Linked DNA regions of Homo sapiens: region 2 is linked to region 1. The links come from fine-mapping of genetic effects on plasma protein levels. Region 1 holds a variant in brackets. A gene starts in the other region. All regions are shown on their reverse strands.

The links. A credible set is the group of variants that fine-mapping cannot tell apart. PIP is the posterior inclusion probability: the model's chance that the variant is causal. Protein levels are from antibody-based Olink assays in UK Biobank. Linkage for the fine-mapping came from a reference panel and not from the study's own genotypes, which makes the PIPs less certain.
Region 2: PDGFC starts here. The variant in region 1 is the best candidate, but not a certain one, in a credible set for the plasma level of the PDGFC protein (UK Biobank, PIP 0.58).

What each region holds. Positions count from the first base shown.
Region 1 is chr5:177,410,502-177,420,889 of GRCh38, reverse strand. No RefSeq gene overlaps it. Among named protein-coding and RNA genes, the nearest start is that of F12, 6.1 kb to the right of the region's middle. The variant C/GC (reference allele first, on the strand shown) is at 7,807.
Region 2 is chr4:156,967,092-156,977,768 of GRCh38, reverse strand. It overlaps PDGFC (platelet derived growth factor C), which reads left to right and starts at 5,970. Exons shown (of 6, transcript NM_016205.3): 1 at 5,970-6,983. The coding sequence starts at 6,866. RefSeq lists an enhancer at 5,683-6,183.

The DNA.
Region 1 (10,388 bases):
GTTAAATGGCTGGGGATGGGGGTGGGAGGGAGGTTTTTCACCTCCCTTTTTGCACCTTTAATCTTGCATTGTGTGACTGGATGGCCTGTCTTAAAAACAATCAGCCGGATCCTGTCACTCTTACTCAGAACTCTCCAGTGGCTGCCTGTGGTAGGCAACCTCTAAGGTACCCCTGCCACCACGGATCTCTGCTTCTTCCTGGTCCGTGGATCTCTGCTTCTTCCTGGTCCGTGGATCTCTGCTTCTTCCTGGTCCGTGGATCTCTGCTTCTTCCTGGTCCGTGGATCTCTGCTTCTTCCTGGTCCGTGGATCTCTGCTTCTTCCTGGTATTCACAGCCTTAAGATCCCCTTAAGTGTCAGGTGGACCTCCTGACTCACTTTTTTTTTTTTTGAGATGGAGTTTTGCTCTCCTTACCCAGGCTGGGGTGCAATGGCATGATCTCAGCTCACTGCAACCTCCACCTCCTGGGTTCATGCAATTCTCCTGCCTCAGCCTCCCGGGTAGCTGGAATTAAAGGCACTCACCACCACGCCTGGCTAATTTTTTGTATTTTTAGTAGAGACGGGGTTTCACCATGTGGCCAGGCTGGTCTCAAACTCCTGATCCGCCCGTCTCGGTCTCCCAAAGTGCTGGGATTACAGGTGTGAGCCACTACACCCGGCATTTTTTCTTTTTCTTTTTTTCTTTTTTTTTGTTTTTGAGATGGAGTCTCGCTCTGTGGAAGTCTCGCTCTGTTGCCAGGCTGGAGTACGGTGGCTTGATCTCCACTCACTGCAACCTCTGCCTCCCAGGTTCAAGCAATTCTCCTGCCTCAGCCTCCCGAGTAGCTGGGACTACAGGCGCGTGCCACTACGCCCAGTTAATTTTTGTAGAGATGGGGTTTCACCATGTTGGCCAGGCTGGTTTTGAACTCCTGACCTCAAGTGATCTGCCCATCTCTGCCTCCCAAAGTGCTGGGATTACAGGCGTGAGCCACCAGGCCTGGCCTGCCCCCGGCCTTTTCTTTTTTTCAGAGTCTCGCTCTGTCGCCCAGGCTGGAGTGCAGTGGTGCAATCTCGGCTCACTGCAAACTCCGCCTCCCGGGTTTAAGCAATTCTCCTGCCTCAGCCTCCGGAGTAGCTGGGATTACAGGCGCTGCCCACTACGCCTGGTTAATTTTTGTATTTTTAGTATAGATGAGGTTTCACCATGTTAGCCAGGCTGGTTTCAAACTCCTGACCTTGGGTGATCTGCCTGCTTCGGCTTCCCAAAGTGCTGGGATTTCAGGCGTGAGCCACTGGGCCGGGCCACGTTTTTTTTCCCTAAGAGACAGGGTCTTGCTCTGTCACTCAGGCTCGATCACAGCTTACTGCAGCCTCCACCTCCTGGGCCCAATCGATCAGCCTACATCAGCCTCCCGAGTAGCTGGGACTACATGCGCATGCCACCATACCCAACTAATTAATTTTTTTGTAGAGATAGGGTCTCCCTCTGTTGCCCAGGCTGGTCTCAAACTCCTGGCTCAAGCAATCCTCCCTCCCTGGCCTCCTAAAGTCTTGGGATTACAGGCATGAGCCATGGCACCCAGCTTGACTCACTTCCAATGGAAGGAATGCAGCCAAAGTGATGGAATGTCATTTCCAACATGAGATTACTAAAAGATTGTGGCTACCATCTTACGTAACTCCTCTTGCTCCCTCACTGGCTCAGTCTGAGAGAAACCACCTGTTAGGTTGTGAGATGGAGAGACCCTATGTGGCAGGCAACTGATGTCTCTAGCCAACAGCTTTGTAAGTGAACTTGGAAGTGGATCCTTCCCCCGGCAGCCTCAGCTGACCCTCCGATGCAGCCTTGTGAGAGATGCTGATCCAGTGGCACTCAGTTAAAAAGTGCCGGGTTCCTGACCCATAGAAACTGTGACCCATAAATATCTTTTTTAAAAAGAGTTTATGGCCGGGAGTGGTGGCTCACACCTGTAATCCCAGCACTTTGGGACGCCAAGGTGGGTGGATCACCTGAGGTCAGGAGTTCAAGACCAGCCTGACCAATATAGAGAAACCCCATCTCTACTAAAAATACAAAATTAGCCAGGCGTGGTGGCACATGCCTGTAATCCCAGCGACTCAGGAGGCTGAGGCGGGAGAATTGCTTGAACCCGGGAGGCAGAGGTTGCGGTGAGCCGAGATCGTGCCATTGCACTCCAGCCTGGGCAACAAGAGAGAAACTCTGTCTCAAAAAAATAAAATAAAAGCTTAATTGGCCAGGAGCAGTGGCTCACGCCTGTAATCCCAGCACTTTGGAAGGCCAAGGCAGGCCAATCATGAGGTCAGGAGTTCGAGACTAGCCTCGCCAACATAGTGAAACCCCATCTCTACTAAAAATATAAAAATTAGCCAGGTGTTGTGGTGGGCACTTGTAGTCCCAACTACTTGGGAGGCTGAGGCAGGAGAATCCCTTGAACCTAGGAGGCAGAGGTTGCAGTGAGCCAAAATCGTGTCACTATACACTCCAGCCTAGGCAACAGAGCGAGACTCTGTCTCAAAAAAAAAAAAAAAAAAAGAGTTTAATTGATGTGAGGCTGGCCCACGTGAGAGAACTGGAGTTATCATTGAAATCAGTCTCCATAAATGTCATTTTAAGCTGCTAAATTTTGGGACAATTTGTTATGCAGCCATAGATAATTAATACACTTCTCATTACACTTAAAAAATAAAACCTCCTTGAGGCTGCAGTGAGCCATGATCATACCATTGCACTCCAGCCTGGGTAACAGAGCAAGAACTGTCTCCAAAAAAATAAATAAATAAATAAATAATAATTTAAAAAAACCTCCTGTAGTCCCAGCTACTTGGGAGGATGAGGTGGGAGGCTCACTTGATCCTAGGATTTCAAGGCCAGCCTGGGCAACAACATAGTGAGACTTAGCTCTACAAAAAATAAACAATTAAAATGTTAAAAACCCTATGTTCTTCCCCGTGGCCCACAATGGCCCAACTTGATCCGGGCCCTGCTTCCCTCTCCAGCGTTATTTCATGCCCTCTCCTTCTCATTCGGTGTGCACCAGCAGCCACACGCTGAGCTTCTTCCTGCTTCCATCAGGAGCTGCACTGTCCAACATGGTAGCACCTAGTCACATGTGGCTACTTAAATTAATTAAATTTGGCCGGGTGCGGTGGCTCATGCCTGTAATCCCAGCATTTTGGGAGGGCGAGGTGGGTGGATCACCTGAAGTCAGGAGTTCAAGACCAGCCTGGCCAACATGGTGAAAACCGTTTCTACTAAAAATACAAAAATTAGGCGGGTGTGGTGGCAGGCACCTGTAATCCCAGCTACTTGGGAGGCTGAGGCAGGAGAATTGCTTGAACCCGGGAGGCGGAAGTTGAAGTGAGCCAAGATCGTGCCATTGCACTCCAGCCTGGGCGACAAGAGCGAGACTCCATCTCAAAAAAAAAAAAAGACTGTATCTCAACAGTTCAACAGTCTGACTGGGGAAGCAACAGTACCACCAGCCAAGGTGTGAAGGATGGCAGGCTGGGTACCTTCTGATCCCCCCAACGTCTCCTTGAACAGGCAGTTCTGCAACCACATGAAATCTATGTCCCAAGTCCCTGCTAAAGAGGAAGTGGGGGCCGGGCATGGTGGCTCACACCTGTAATCCCAGCACTTCAGGAGGCCGAGGTGGGCAGATCACAAGGTCAGGAATTTGAGACCATCCTGACCAACATGGTGAAACCCCGTCTCTACCAAAAATACAAAAATTAGCTGGATGTGGTGGCAGGTGCATGTAATCCCAGCTACTCAGGAGGCTGAGGGAGAATCGCTTGAACCTGGGAGGCGAAGGTTGCAGTGAGCCGAGATCGTGCCATTGCACTCCAGCCTGGGAGACAGAGCGAGACTCTGTCTCAAAAAAATAAAAATAAAGAGGAAGGGGATTTGTGTGTGTCTGTGTGTATCCAGAAACCTGTGAGCAGGACTCAATGGTTTCTCATCCCATGGACCCACCGCCCAGCTGCAGAAAGACAGAAGCCAGGTCAAGGGGACACTGCCTTTCTGCTCTGGTCTACAGCAATTGGTGGAAGACAGCCAGATGTGCAAGAAGATCTGGGGACAAGTGTGCAGAAATTATAGAGAAAAATGTATCCACATTGGAAAGTTTCTTTGTACACCTCTATGGATTGAGCTCCAACCACACGCCAGGCTCTGCCTTTTCACATGCAATCCCATTCAAACACCTCAACAAGTCTACCAGACAGCATGAGTGCCCATCCCTCCCTACAGAGATGTGGCAATGCAGATTGAGAGAGGCCGAGCTCCTTAGCCGTCATCACACTGCGGGGCGGTGGCCAAGGTGGGAGTGGAAGCCTTCCTGACTCAAGTCCAGTGCTTCCCTACCCTGCTTCTAAGGTCAGTATTTTCCCGTCCTTTAAACTACTGACTTACCCATCATGATCACATGAAGGGGTTTGTTTTGTTTTGTTTTGTTTTGGGAACTTCCTGGTAACAGTGTATGAAGTCTGGCAGCATAAGTTAGGACTTTTGGTTGAAACTAAAATTAGCTCAGGCAAAAAAAGGAATTTTGGGGTTCAGGTAACAGAAAAGCATAGGTGGTGGTTCTGACTTCAAGCGTCTCTGGATGCTGGGTCTCAAATGGTGTCATTCAAAATCTGTCTTTTTCTTTTTCTTTTTCTTTTTTTTTTTTTGAGATGGAGTCTCACTCTGTCACCAGGCCGGAGTGGAGTGGCGCAATCTCGGCTCACTGCAACCTCTGCCTCCCTGGTTCAAGCAATTCTCCTGCCTCAGCGTCCTGAGTAGCTGGGATTACAGTTGCGTGCCACCACTCCAGGCTAATTTTTTTTTTTTTTTTTTTTTTTAGTAGAGACGGGGTTTCACCATGTTGGCCAGGATGGTCTCGATCTCTTGACCTCGTGATCCACCCGCCTTGGCCTCCCAAAGTGCTGGGATTACAGACGTGAGCCACGATGCCCGGCCTAAAATCTGTCTTTTTCATACCCTGGCTCCACTCTTTTTTTTTTTTTTTTTTTGAGACGGAGTCTTACTCTTTTGCCAGTCTGGAGTGCAGTGATGCAATCTCAGCTCACTGCAGCCTCTGCCTCCCAGGTTCAAACAATTCTCCTGCCTCAGCCTCCCAGGTAGCTGGGGTTACAGGCGCGCCACTACACCCGGCTAATTTTTTTGTATTTTTAGTACAGGCAGAGTTTCACCATGTTGGCCAGGCTGGTTTCGAACTCCTGACCTCAGATGATCCATCCACCTCAGCCTCCCAAAGTGCTGGGAATACAGGCGTGAGCCACTGCACCCAGCGCCCATACCCTGGCTCTGCTTTTAATCTTTATTATCTTTATTCTCAGGTAGGTTCTCCCTCTGAGATGTTAAAGATGGCTGCCAGCAGCTCCAGGCTCATTTGTTAGGAATGTGACAACCTCCATGGAAAGAGAAGGCCTCTAGCTTTATAATTCCAGCAAAAATCCTGGGGCTGCCTCTCACTGGTTCGATGTGGGTTAGGTGTTCTTTTTTTTTTTCTTTTGAGATAGAGTCTGGCTCTGTCGTCCAGGCTAGAGTGCAGTGGTGCGATCTTGGCTCACTGCAACCTCTGCCTTCTAGGCTCAAGCCATCATCCCACCTCAGCCTCCTAGGTAGCTGGGACCACAGGCGTGCACCACCACGCCCACCTAATTCAGGTGTTCATTTGAACCAATCGCTGAAGACAGAGGTGGTGTTCCGATTGGCCAGGTCTAGATCAAATGCCCACTCCACCCTCAGCCAAGGGATAGGGTAGGCTTTATTTTATGTATATTGACGCAGGGTGGGGAGGAGCGATTCCCCAAAGAAACAATGAGGGCCATTTCTAGAAGCAGGGAGAATGAATGGTAAACAGGAAATGATAGACATCCATCACAGGCTCTCAAATTATGTTTCACAGCTGTAGCTACCTTGAATTTTCTGGAAGTCAAAGAAGGGGCAGTAGAAATTGAGAGAGATGGAGAGATTTGAGAAATATTTATGTAGCCTGGTGCGGTGGCTCATACCTGTAATCTCAGCACTTTGGGAAGCTGAGGTTGAGGAGATAGCTTGAGCCCAGGAGTTTGAGACCAACCTGGGGAACACAGTGACACCTCACCTCTACAAAAAATTAAAAAATTAGCTGGGTGTGGTGCTGCACGTCTGTATCCCAGCTACTTAGGAGGCTGAGGTGGGAGGATTGCTTAGAGCCTGGGATGCTAAGGCTGCAGTGAGCCATGATCACGTCACTGCACTCTAGCCTGAGCAACAGACTGACACCCTGCCTCAAAAAAGAAAAAAAAGAAAAATATTTAAATAGTGGAATGAACAGAACTAGGTGGCTAAGTAGGCTGGGAGCATGAGGAAGAGAGAGCTCTTGGTTGCAAGCAACAGAAAATGACTCTAGCTGCTTCAACAAAAGGGAATTTACTTTGTGAGAAGGTCTTCGGGAGTTCACGGCATCAGCTCGAAGGAATAGGCTTGGAAATGTGCAGGAATTAAGAGCCACTGGAAGACTAGGAAGCAGGAAGTACAGTGATTTCCCTTGAGCAGACACGGAAGTTGTCCACCTAATATCCATGCCACCGCTCTTCCCTGTTTGCAGAGTCCCAGTTCTGTTCCAGTGGCCACTTTACCTCACATGCCTCTGACCCAGATCCAGGGTTAATAGGTTTAGGCCAGTGATGGGGATCCCCTTTTCCTTGCCAAACATGGCTTAGGGATGTCATGTGAGCCTGTTCTAGCTAAGAAAGCATGAGGAGAGGTCTGCTTGAGATTTGAGGGAGGGTTCCTCATTCCTAAGAAGGAGCTAGTGGAAGGGAAGGTGCCTCTTCTTTGCTTGAACATAATTGAGTTGAAGTGTGATTCCTGGAGCTGTGACAGCCATCTTGTGACCATGAGGGCAGGCAGCCTGAAGGTCTGCACACAGAAGACAAACAAAAAAAGAAAGAACTTGGGTTCTTGATGACATTGTTGAACCACTGAAAGCACTGTTCCTGGAGTCCTGCTGCTCCAGACATCTGGTGACATGGGATGATGAATTCGAATTGCCCTACTGCATATGCTTGGTTTTTGGAAGGCATCCTGACTTAATGCCATGTAGCCGGGATGATTTGGTCAGGGCACAGGTGGTGCAATGCCAGACCTCCAGCTTTTCCTGCCATCCTTGTGTGGCTTGATCAGGATTCAGAGCCCTGGGAGAAAACACTATTGGCTGAGTTTAGGTCCCTCTGGCTATACTATGGTAGGGAGAGGTTGGTCTGGTCCATTAGGCTTCCATAGTGGAGATGGTCTCTAGAAAGTACCCTTTCAGCCGGGTGTGGTGGCTCACGCCTGTAATTCCAGCACTTCGGGAGGCCGAGGTGGGCAGATCATGAGGTCAGGAGTTCGAGACCAACCTGGCCAACATGGTGAAGCCCTGGTCTCTACTAAGGAGACAAAAAATTAGCCGGGCATGGTGGCGTGGGCCTGTAATGGCAGCTACTTGGGAGGCTGAGGCAGGAGAATCACTTGAACCTGGGAGGTGGAGGTTGTAGTGAGCCGAGATCGCACCATGGCAGTCCAGTTTGGGCGACAGCGCGAGACTCCATCTCAAATAAATAACTAAATAAAAATAATAATAAAGTACCCTTTCACCACCACAGCTGGGGAGGGGTGATCACAAAATGAAACTGGGAGAGGAAGAGGAAGGGAGATGGATGTTGAACATCCAAATGACCATTAATGTCCACCTGACACCTCATCTCACACTCCCTACAAGGCACCTTATGCTCACCACATTCCCCATTTGACACGCTGCATTCAGG[C/GC]TTCTGTGCAGTTGTATTACTCACTCTGCCTGCAAACCCCTACTTGTGGCGAAGACCTGTTCAAAAGGCCCCTTCCATGTAGAGGAACAGCTGCCTTCTCCCCAAGAGGAAGGAGCCAATGTGGGAGTGGCCTTAGGGCCAGGGTCTATACTCAGGAGCAATCAAGAACTGACAGAGCCAGGCATGATGGCATGAACCTGTAATCCCAGCTATTCAGGAGGATGAAGCGAGAGGATCACTTGCGCCCAGAAGTTCCAGGCTAGCCTGGGCAACTTAATAAGACCGAGTCTCTTTGAAACAACAAAAAAGGTGACAAAGGTAGTTTCGCTTTAATGACTCGTCAATATATCTAATAGTTTCACTTTCATCATGGAGTTAACAGCTGTCACGTCAATGACTTTGAAACCAGTTACCTTTGAAACCAGTGGTTGGAAAGGTGCCCCTCCTCTCCTGCCCTCCTCTTTCTGTGTTTCTGTTCCAAGAAGTCTTCCACAGCCTGCCTCTCTTCCAGCAGAATTAATAAATTGCTACACTCAGTCTTCATTTCCCATAAATTACTTTGTATAACTTAGGACTTTGTATAACTGAAAGTGACAGAAGTCCACTCAAATTGGTTTTATTGGCTCATATAACTGAGAAGTCTATTTTTTTTTTTTTTTGGAGATACAGTCTCAGTCTGCTTCCCAGACTGGAGTGCAGTGGCACAATCACGGCTCACAGCATTTTGGACCTCTGGGCTCAAGCAATCCTCCTGCCTCAGACTCACAAGTAGCCGGAACTACAGGCACGCGCCACCATGCCTGGCTAATGTTAAATTTTTTTGGAGAGATGGGATCTCACTATGTTGCCTACATCAGTCTGGAACTCCTGGGCTCAAGTGATCCTCAAGTGATCCCCAGCCTCCCAGAGTGTTGGGATTACAGGCGTGAGCCACTGTGCCTAGCCATAACTGACCAAGTCTTAAGGATACTTCTAGTTTTAGGATGTAGGCTCTCAAAGTCATGAGAAATCAATCCATCAGTACTAGTTCTCAAATGTCGTGTAACAAATCACCCTAACTTGTGGCTTAAAGCAACAACATTTAATGATGATTTATCACAGTTTCTGATGGTCAGTTTTGCCTTGAGGTCTTTCATAAGATTGCAAGCCAAATGTCAGCGAGGGCTGCAGTATCCACTTCCAAGGCAGCTTATTCATGTGGCTGTCCAATTGGCACTGGCTGTCAGCAGGGTGCTTTCCTTTCTCCCTACATGGGCTTCTCTGCAGGGCTGCATGTGTGTCCTCACAACACAGTGGCTGGCTTCCTCCAGAGTGAGCAACCTAAGAGACCGAGGCAGAAACTGCAATGTCTTTTATGACCTGGGCTTGGAAGTCCAACACCCTCACTTCTGCCATATTTTTTTTTTTTTTGAGACAGTCCCTGTCGCCCAGGCTGGAGTGCAATGGCACAATCTCTGCTCACTACAACCTCCACTTCCTGGGTTCAAGCGATTCTCCTGCCTCAGCCTCACGGGTAGCTGGGATTACAGGCACACGCCACTACGCCCGGCTAATTTTTGTATTTTTCATAGAGATGGGGTTTGGCCAACACGTTGGCCAGGCCGGTCTTGAACTCCTGACCTAGAGTGATCTGCCTGCCTTGGCATCCCAAAGTGCTGGGATTACAGGTGTGAGCCACCACACCCAGCCACTTCTGTCATATTCTGATGGACACACAGAACAGCCCTAACTCAATGTGGGAAGACACCATACAAGGGCATGAATCCTAGGTGGTGAGGATCAATGGGGGCTGTCTTTGAGGCTGTCTACCACAGCATCTTTCCATCCTTCCTGCCCTGTTTGCTTTGCTTTTCCTATGTGTAGGCTTCATTCTCAAACAGGCCCTCCCTAGAGAGTGACAAAGGTGATCATCAATGTGTTCAGACCCACATGCTCTGTGCTTAGTAACCCCAGTGCAACTTTTTTGCTTTCCCAAAAGTTCTGGCAAAAGTCCCAAGCTAGCACTTTAATTGGCCTAAATTGTGTATATGCTTATCTCTGAACCAATCACTGTGGATTAGAGATGTCATGCTCTGATTGACCAGACCTAGGCCACATCTCTAGCCCTAGCTCTGAGGGTAGAGTTGGCAGCACTAGAGCCCATGGAAGAAGTAAGAGAGGAGTCGTTGCTAAAGGAAAAATCAAAGTGTCATTACCGAACCAGGACAGATGCTGGGCAGCACATGTGCACCCCGTCTTCTTCTCATGTTCCAGCTGCACATCTTAGTGCCCCTTGGTTTAGCACTTTTCTCATTAAATCATTTGCTTTCTTGCCTCACTTCCTGTGGTTGGTAGAATGCTAAGATGGCCCCAAGATCTCTACCCCTGGTGTTTGCACACCTCCCAGTTATTCTGTCAAACATGAATGTAGATGCTTCTGTGAAAGAATTTTGCACATGTAATTTAAGTCCCAAATTGTTTGACCTTAAAATAAGGAGAATGGCAGGGCCAGGCATGGTGGCTCATACCTGTAATCCCAGCACTTTGGGAGGCCAAGGCGGGCAGATCACGAGGTCAGGAGATCGAGACCATCCTGGCTAACA
Region 2 (10,677 bases), not on the chromosome of region 1:
ATTCAGTAGCAATCATGAGTAGAAAAAGAGGAATGATAATTCACTCCCTTTGTCCTCAAAGACAAGGAGATAGATTCTTTGAAATAACTGCCCACAGATGGTCTAGGCTTAGACATTGGCCGGATGACTAACGTTGGCCAGGATAAACAGGATACTCCCGCTAGCCCACGCCTTGGGTGGGCTTCAACCCCAAGGCTAGCTGCCCGAGGCCTTAGTCACTATCACTGCCTCGGGTAACCCATATTCATTTTGACTCAAACATTTTATTTAGGCTGTCCAGTCAGATAGCTGTGTAATGTTGTAGTAGTATTCTTGAACACCTCAGGTTAAACATAGGGGAAGACATTCAGTCATTGTGAAGAAAACTTAGAAGAGAAATGTAAGAAAGCTTCAGGTAAGATGTTTTTGTCCAAAGTCCAGGGCTTAAAGGTGTCAAATTGAAAAGGAGTAAAAGGAGAAGACCTGGAGTTAAATATTAACTCTACCTGTCATTAATATTGTCACTCTGGGAAAATTAATGCCATCTTTAAGGTTCAGTTTCTCTGCCGTAAAATGGGAAACCTATGACCTTCCTTAAAGGAGAAGCTGGAAGATTAAATGAGAAAATATTAATATATTTTAATGAATCTACAGTTCCTGGGACATAGTAGGTGCTTTTAAAGATAAATTTAAGCAAAAGTAATTCTCCCCTCACTTTAATTTTCCTTGGTTTGCCTTGGTATAACTATAAATCTTTTTGAGTAGCCTGCAAGAGGAAAACATGGCTTTTTGTCCTCCTAATTTCTTGTAGGACAATTCAAAGAAGATTTAGATGATGAGAAAGAAGAGAAGGTGGTACAGAGGATGAGGGAAACACAAAGGGAAATTGTGCTGATAAAAACAAAATTTGGGAAAAGAAAATGATCCCTTAAGAGTGTTGCAAGTCTGCTTTAAAAGAAAACAAGCAGATTTATTACTGCAAAGATGATAAGGAAAGCAAATAGTAATAATCATAATAGAAAGGGGGGTCTGTTGATCTATCTTGAACTTCAAAAGCAGTTGAGGATACTTTTAATATTAGATTAGTTAAGCCATATTTTCCTTTCTTCTAGCCAGCCAGCAATACTTTTTGATGTTCACTGTTAAGTAGTGGGCTGAGACTATCCACCTCTTTTACAAAGGCTAGTAGCCAAGGAAAGGACTGCATTTGAAACAATGATCACAAAGTGAAAGGCTCCTTCTCCCATGACCTTTGAAATAAGAAGGTCACTATCTGAGAAAGGAGGGTCTGTAGCTGTGTCTTGACCTCTTTACTATGATTTGTCACAATGGGGACAACAGCCTTCATATCCTACAAATGATTTCAAGAGAGAGAAAAATGACACCTTATTGACTCTAAGATATGGACAAAGATAGTGTTGCTGTCCATGTTCTTAGGGGATACCCCTTGCTCTCCAGATTGTTTCACATTCCACCAGTGTGACTCAATAGAACAGTATGAGTTTGACCATCTGTTCTTGGCTAACAACAATATTATTTCCTTAGTGTTTACAACTCAGTTATGTACAATAGCTATTTCTTTTTACCTTGACACTCCGCTTAGGACTGCACTTTGCCTCTTTCGAGGCTGTTAGCATGATAACAACCAAATATTGAAAAGTAAAATATGAATACCTGCACCTATTGAAGGCCTGGGGATTTATTTGGTTTCCTTGAATTCCATGATATTCCTGTATACTTGCCCTAGCCAGTGATTTCCAAACTCTGTCCCCTCTTCTTTTTGATTACCATTAGAGCTTGGTTTTTCAAACTATGGCAATAACAGATACAATAGTACTGCTCTAGTTGAGCAAGTTTAGAAAGAAGAACCTGTTCATTATCTCTTTTGCCAGCCACGAAGACATCTCTGATATGAGGCTAGGAAACTTGTGCTAGTAATTTTTTATCACAGAAGCACACTGAAGATGAAAAAGTCTTGCCATCATTATCTATAATAGCTCAGAGAATTTCTAAAGCAGTAGGGGGATCAAGACAGAAGCCAGTGGCGATTCCTCATGTAAGGAAAAGGAAACTGAGGGGCAGAGAAGATTTCTAGATCAAGGTTGTACTGTTTATTAGTGGTAAAGCCAGACTAAGCCCCTGACCTCCCATCTCCCAGTGAAATGATCTTTTGTTGTGGTGGTTCAAAGGTTACTAGGGCTTCTCTTTCTTTACGGCTGTTTCTGGCTAGTTACTCCCTCTGAGTTCAGAGTCAGACAAACACTTCTAAGATTTTGGAAAATCTTAGATTTCAATAAGGAAATAGCAGCTTTACTTCAAAGGAAAAGGCCACAGAGAGCCAACTAAAGTCCATTTCTGCAGGTCACACTTCTCTTAACTCCCCATCCTCCAGATCCATTCCCCAGGAAAGTCAGACTGACAAAGTGTGTCTTCTTCTAGAGCAGAGCCTTAGCAAAACCCTCTACCCTCAGCCTCAGCAGGTAAACCCTTCTCAGATTAGCAGCTGATACACTGGGGAGGTAAAAGTTACCTGATGCTAGAAGAATAAAATGTAATGAAAAGTGTCTCATTTCTTGGTTGGAAAAACAGAGTATTGATATATATCTTCATAACCTAGAGATAGCAAGGTCGTATTTCTCAAGATGAGGTAGTGGGAAAAGTGGAAAGAGAAGAGGATGACTCTAAGACAGACTACTGACTTCATTTATTTATTTATTTCTTTTTTTCCTAACACAGTCTTTATTCCTGCTGTGGTCTGTGGACGTTTACTTTGACTACTAATGATATCTCCAGTCCTGCCATATATATATATATATATATATATATATATATATATATATATATATATATATATATTTGTTACTTGTCAGCCATTCTCAATACACAATGAGTATTTAGGTAGAAGAAAGCTTTCTGAACTTCAGGAAATCATGCTCAATTATCTGCCACTAAAATACTGAAATGTTCCAGGAAAAGTCTTAAAATAACTTTGCACATATGCCTCTGTGTGTGTGTGCATGCACGTGTGTGTGTGTGTTAGGATCAAAACAGAAAAATAAAGAGCAAGAAAACGTAGATTTTTTTTTTTGGTGGCAAAAATATGTCCCCATGGTTCCCGCCCCTTTGAGTGTTAAGTGGCTAGCTAAAGGAGTAGGTTGCTTTAAAATCTTATTTCACTTAAAAACATTTAGTAGTGACACCCCCTCCCCCAAATTATCATTGTTAACCACCAAGTGTATTCTTTAGTAAGAATTTGTGGTAATACTCTTCATGCATGCAGCAGCAATGGGCACTCCTTCTTAAGGTTTAAGAAAACATGAAAACCACAAAGAATGTCTGAAATTATTTTCTCTTGGTTGGCGGAACAGATGCCTTTCATCAAGGAAAATGCCTTTGGCCAAAACAAAGCCATATTCATTTAAAATATATTGTTTAGTAATTGCACAGACTCTGGATTATATAAAATTTACTTTCAATGCAAAGATTTCATTTTTCTAGAAAAGGTTAACAAGCAAAATAGAGCAGGAAGACAGGCAGAGGATAATGTGTTAAAAGAATCAACTACGTCAAGGGCAAGAGCAGTTCAAGAAATGACAATGCAAGTACATTGAAAGGAAATTGGCCAATGTGGATGTGATTTTGTCTAGGGGTCATTCAGGAACACCTGGCTGACTTTATTTATAAGGCGATTGTCAAATCAATCTGTAGAATATGGATGAGGTGAAACGCAGAGGTAGAGTATTATTCTAGATCATCTGTAACTTTTCAAATACAACTATCGCACTGAAATTCCAGGGAGAATGTAAGTGACTCCAATAAAGAAACCTGTCAGTCAGTCAAGAGTGTTTATTTATTATCCCCCTGTGCCAAGCAATATTCTAGCCAATATGAAATGATACAAAATAAAGAGTAGTCATCACCCTTCCAATCTCCTGAGAGCAAATGGATTACATTTGCAGACACACACACACACACACACACACACACACACACACACACCCCACCTCTATGTGGGTGGTCAGGAAACTCAACTATATGGACATATAACAATTTCATTTAGAAAAGTGCTGATTAGAAAACTAAACTTACAAAATTAGAAAAACTGGAGAATAATGAATTTTATGAAAAATAGATTACAATGGATTCATAAGGCATGCCCTTTATTTAAGTCCCATTATGTTATTAAAATTGGGAATAACCCTTCACCCTCACAAATTTACAAAATATTTTTGGAACACATTATGCAAATATGGAGTCACACTGGTGTTGTGGAGCTGCTAACTCGAATAAAATACCATACTTGATAAAAAACCTTCTGTCCACTAAACTGTAAATGCCTTAAAGTCAAAGATCAGGCCTTATTTGCCTTTAGTGTATATTTAGTACTCTGTAGATAGAAGTGGTAAAGGGATAAGAATGAATGAATGAGACAGGCGGGTGAAATTTTCAAGAATGAGACAGATGGGTGAAGTTTTCAAAGGTTTCTAAAAGGGAAAAACAAGAAGACTAGGATATTCCAAGCAGAAAGGTCTGGTTGGTTGGCCCCAGTTGGTGTTCGCATATAAGAAGAGGGCTTGGCATTTTCCTCACCACTGAAGAAGGATCAGCCCCTGGTTTGGTCCAGTAAGAATATGTTCTTGCCCAAATGCCACTCCTTAGTTTCAGGGACATTGCTATTTTGGTTTTCTGTTCCAGCCCAAGTGTTCTTGATGGTCGAATTGTTTGCATTGACTTTTTTTCCACAAGAAGTTGGGTGATATTGCTGATTTGCCTGCCATGGCACTTCCTTGTTTTCATTTTGATTATTACTCAAAAATAGCTTCATTTTAAAATTCAACTTTTCTGACTCTCTGCTTGTGCCTTTAACACATTGACAATGATTTTCTGCTTCTCCACAAAGAAAGCACGTTGGATCCTGTCACAGACATATTTAGCAGACATGGAACCACCATAAGCCCTGCTTGGCATGTGTGTTTCATTTCAGACTACCTCATGAGAACTTTAGGTCTTAAAGCATCGGCCTCTCTCTCCAAGTCAGCCTGAACACAAGCCACAAGAGATTTCAGTTCTTTCTCGACCTTTTTGGTGTAAATGTAAACAATTCTATCACCAGGGGTTCAGGGCAGCCTAGTTTTGTTAGAGGCTGTATTGTAGGAAAGTCCAAGGTTGCAGGATCATTCTGAGTCCCTTAGACACCATTCTCAGAAGAGCTTGCTATTAGCTTAATGCTGCCCAACTACTACGTATGCTTCACGAGGGCAGGGACTTTTGTCTGTTTTCACTGCTACGGCTCCAACCTCTAAACAGTGCCCGACATAGTAGGCATTCAGTAAATATAGTACTTGTTAAATGGATGTTATTTTGGCTGCCTTTACTTTTGCTTTATTTGTCCTGCTTTACGGAGCTGGAAATTGGAGGAAAGCCTTTGAATTCATTTCCCTTCTTCCTTCTGTTCTGAAACTCTGGCCAAGGGTCCTAGCAAAGACCTTAGGGAGTGGGGAGCCCTCCTGGAAACTAATGACAAGTCAGGCGACAGGGGGCGGGAGAAGGAGAGCTGCAGGAAGTTCTTTCCCACTTACTTCTGCAGCACCCTTCACCACCCATCGTGCTCTGTATTTGGGGTTAGAGGTGTTCCGTGGAAGGGAAAGCAGGGGCCGCCTTGGCCGCGTTCCTCTCCTGGGCCACCGGGGTCTTGCCCACAGCGAGTCCCGCAGCACCCCCTGTCTGCGCAGCACCTGTTGACAGCCAGTGGGCGGCCAAGCCCGCTCGCGCGGACGCGTCCCAGGGCTGCCCCTCCCAGAGGCGCTGACCCCCGCCCGCCCCATCGGCCGCCTGCGGGAGAGCCGCTGAGCCGCCCCCGCTCGCCAGGCGCGCGCTCCGCCCGGGCTCGGCCCACGGCCCCCACCTCCTGTCTGCCGCCCGGCGGGGGGAAGGTAGAGAAGGGGAGGGGACAAGCCGGATCCTCCCGGCCGCCCCGGCCTTCCCTCTTCACCCCGTGCGGAGACGCCGCGCGTAGCCCCGAGGTTAGCGCGGAGCCCGAGGCGTGGGGGGAGGGGACGGGGAACAACCGGAGCCCCGCGGTGACCCCGAGCGGCCGAATTGCCCCAGGCTTTGAGGAGCGGGGGACGAGCCCGAACAAGGTGAACTTTGGTCGCGGAAAACTCAAGCCAGGTGCCGGAATCCGTGCTGCGGCGCTCCGAACCCGGGGCCAACTGCGCTCCGGGCTGAGGAGCGGGAGCCCCGCGGCCTCTCTCCGCCTGCGCCCGGGCCGCCGTCGGCCCGGAGCCCCCCGGCCCCGCTCCGGCGCCCCGGCCCGTGGGACCCGCCGCGGCGCCCTCGCCTTGTTTCTTCCCCCTCCCCCTTCGGGGGTGGGGGGTGGGGCGGGGGAGAGGGGCGCCCGGAGAGCCGCATCTATTGGCAGCTTTGTTATTGATCAGAAACTGCTCGCCGCCGACTTGGCTTCCAGTCTGGCTGCGGGCAACCCTTGAGTTTTCGCCTCTGTCCTGTCCCCCGAACTGACAGGTGCTCCCAGCAACTTGCTGGGGACTTCTCGCCGCTCCCCCGCGTCCCCACCCCCTCATTCCTCCCTCGCCTTCACCCCCACCCCCACCACTTCGCCACAGCTCAGGATTTGTTTAAACCTTGGGAAACTGGTTCAGGTCCAGGTTTTGCTTTGATCCTTTTCAAAAACTGGAGACACAGAAGAGGGCTCTAGGAAAAAGTTTTGGATGGGATTATGTGGAAACTACCCTGCGATTCTCTGCTGCCAGAGCAGGCTCGGCGCTTCCACCCCAGTGCAGCCTTCCCCTGGCGGTGGTGAAAGAGACTCGGGAGTCGCTGCTTCCAAAGTGCCCGCCGTGAGTGAGCTCTCACCCCAGTCAGCCAAATGAGCCTCTTCGGGCTTCTCCTGCTGACATCTGCCCTGGCCGGCCAGAGACAGGGGACTCAGGCGGAATCCAACCTGAGTAGTAAATTCCAGTTTTCCAGCAACAAGGAACAGAACGGTGAGTCTTTCCCCCATTCTCCCCCTGCTTGTTTCTCGCTGTGTGTGTTAACGTTGGCATTGTGCGTTGGTATGTGATATATACCAGACTGTGAAGGTATCTTTGGTCTCTCATTACATGCAAATGTGCGCTGCGTTCATTGGCATGGACTGTTAAAGGTTAAGTGTAGTTTGCAACTTCGGGAGCTGCCACAAAGCTCCAAGAGGGCAACGTGAGTGCCACTGCTGAGTGAGGACATTCTGGGAGCGATTGTGAACGTCATTTCAAATGCACATTGCAGGTTCGCTCATTGCTAAAGTTAGAAGTTCAAGAACTGCCTCTAAAAACGAATCCAAAATGAATGAGCCTTGGCATGTTTGACTTTACTCAGATTTGGGGAGGGCGAGGGGGGTCGGTCAGGAAATATATCAGCCGCATTAATTGAAGCACTCTAGGTCGAAGTCATCAATTAATCAATGAGTAGATAGGAAATATAGAGGTCAAGAGGCTGTGTGGTCGTTTTTAGAGGAATTAAAAAGTGTATTTCTCTTGCTCCCTAGTTTTTGTTTTTTAAACTTGCCTTTGTACTCTGAAGTCCTTACCTTTCTGGTGGTGTGTTTTTGTATGTGTTGGTGAATGACTGCTATTTTGTGTGTGCTGGAAACGACTTAATCCTGCATAGGAAATGAGAATTACTTTCAGCTTTCAAGTGTACCTGAAATGTTTAGAAAACTCTCAGATGCAAGTTCCCTTGGGCTGGGATTGCACAGAGCTGGAGAAAGGCTCCTTTCATAAAGCCAGGGCAGCTTCAGGGTGTGTAATTTGCTTAGCCTCTGAACCCATATGATTTACATCATTCAATTTCTAAACTCTTTTTCTCTTCATCTACCATTATGAAGTCATTTTTGAGAATACTTTGTAAATAGAAATTTTATACTGCACATGAAACCACAATGTTCATGTTAGGCTGTCTAAAATTGGAATATTTAACGCCCTGTTTACAAATGGTGGCTCTTACTGTAATTTGAAAAGGAATATACATGTTTTTACTGCTTTGTATATCATCTATTCAGAATGCAAGGATTCTGTCACTTGATTAACCATGCAAAATGAACACAAGTGGCATACCTACAAAATTAAGATAGGATGTGCTATAGTTTTAAGTCAGAGTGATTTTTTTTCCTTTTCATATTGGGGTGTTTCAAGACTTCAACTTTGAATTTAAACTCTATGAAGTGTTCATGTTTAAGAAAGCACAGAAAGTTTTAGGGTATAAAAGTAGATAAAATAAGGATTCTGCCGACTTTTGCAAACGTTATTTGTATTTGCTGTTGCGCAGCAAGACATAGTATCACATTTATCAGCTAATATTAGTGTGGTGCTTCTTACAACTTGCTAATGTGATGCCACATGGCACCTGCAGGCTCCTTGAGCTGCTGATCAAAGGGCAGCCTAGGGATGTATCTCTAATCACAGTAGCTGCAGAGGTCTGGGGGAAAGTGATCAAAGGAGCCACAGCACCAGCTGTACCCGTGCAGGAAACACATCAGACCAACCTTTGTTCTTTCTCATGTAAAATAAATGTCCAGTTCAAAATATTGCTTCTTACTAGCCAAGCTCCTCCATAATGACAACAATGCACAATATTCCTGGCTTCCTGGCTTCTGTTTTTTATTGTTCCTGTCCCATATCATTTCTCCTATTGCCTTGTCTTATCAAGCCTCTCTTGGCATCTGCCCGAATCTCTTTGCTGACCTGTGCTTCTCTTTGTCCTTTCCTTTTAGTTCTCTCTTGTGATCCCCATGCTATCATCACTTTGTAAGGGTCCCAGAGCTGTCATGCAGCATGTGGTCATAGGCCACTTTACCCAAGTAGATTCACACCTCCAGGAGAGATGAGTTCATTAAGCCAGGCCACACACATTCTGTTGCCATCTGAGGCTGGGCCATTTCCATTCCTAAGATGCATGATGCTAAAAATTGCTGCTTGTTTCCTAATCTGTGGGTAGAGGATTAGGCTATGTTTGGGGGTTGGTCTATGTTAAGGATGGCAGCAGGAAGTAACTAGAAGTAGAGGAACTACTTGTAGTTTTTAGCCCAAGGAGAAGTGGCACTGGCCAGCACTAGGGGGCAATATAGAGCTATTTTCTTGCACATGCTCAGGTTGATTTTTATACGTAAATGTTTCAAGATTTGAGGGTAACAGGTGGGTGCTGAAGAAGATTCCCCTGGAATGTAACCAGATTTGTTAGAGCTACTACCATTACCGTTACTACTACTACTTCTACTTCTTCTTCTTTTTGTCTTTCAAATTTTCCATTATGTGGGTAATCTTTTGCCCACATACTGAATTATGATTGAATTTTGATTGCCCTGTTGCTGTCTCAATTTTGACAGTTGTACAGTCCTGTAAATACGAACCCTCCTTGAGGATACCACGTAGAAGATCCCATTGGCCCAGTTTGTGCATTGCATCGTTTTGTGACAGGTCTTCTCTAACTCTGAAATGTCCAAATTGATATATTATGACTGTAGCAGCTCATTCTTGTCTCCAAGGACCCCTCCTCATGATACTCTCTTTTCTTGAGTATTCTAAAGTCCCTAATGGTGATTACTCAATCAGGTACCTCGGGCTGCTCAGTTTTAATATTAACTTGGTATTTCAAGAGGAGGTAGAATTGGAAATTGATTGCTGTAGCCAATGCTGCATACATGGATTTAGACTGGATCATGTGGACATGGTTCAGAATTAGCTTTGAAGGGTTAGTGTCATTTACACTATTGTTAGGTATCTGGTTTTTGACCTACCATTGGATTGCAATTCTTGCCACTTTTACTGTACAAAGTTTTATCCTCTAATATTATAAGTTGACTTCATATACTATACTTAATTTTTAACCTTACTTCTGACCCTGTCTCACTTATGAAAACAAGAGTCTTCAGATTTAACTTGAGGAAAGAGATTAAAAGATAACATTGACTTGCTTGGAGGGTGTCTGGCCTGTATACTTGTTGTATGACCATGGTGAAAAATACTCATATTTTGTGCACACTGGTTTTAGATGAGAATGCCTATTGTGGAATGATTAAGTTCTGGGACGGTGCTTCTGAGTTGTAGCAGAAAGAATCATACACCCAGGAACAAAACAAAACCTACTTTGTCTGTTGCATACAGCACAAAGAGATGTCAATGACAAAGTTGTTGGTGGAGGAATGCCTCTTCTACCTGTGTTGTTGGTGAGTGATTTTTAGTTTACTCATAGATTAAGAGCATGCGTATCATTTTTTTCTCATTTTCTTTAGCCATTCTGAATTTTGATTTGGAATATGCCGCTCTTCGCTACGGTTGGTCTTATTAACATCAGTTATTGTATGTGTTCTTTTTCTCAAGGGCTTTTGTGGCATGTGGGGCAATTTACTTTGGTCTGCTGGTCGTGCCCTTTTGCCGGTATCTTGTGTTTATGGATTTTCCATCTCTTTTTATCAGTGCCAGCTTTCTCTTCCTACTGTCAATGCTCCTGTATCTAACAAAATTTAAATTAAAAATGGAAAATTAAAAAAGGTGCCCAGTCCCCTCGCCATCATTTTTAGGTGGCAGCTTCAAATCTCTGTTTTATCAAAAACAGATAACCACAATATTTAGAACAGTGTCCAAGAGTAAATAGGCTCTAACTGCAGACTAAAGGGACTTTCCTGTAAGTTTCCCTGTAAGTTTT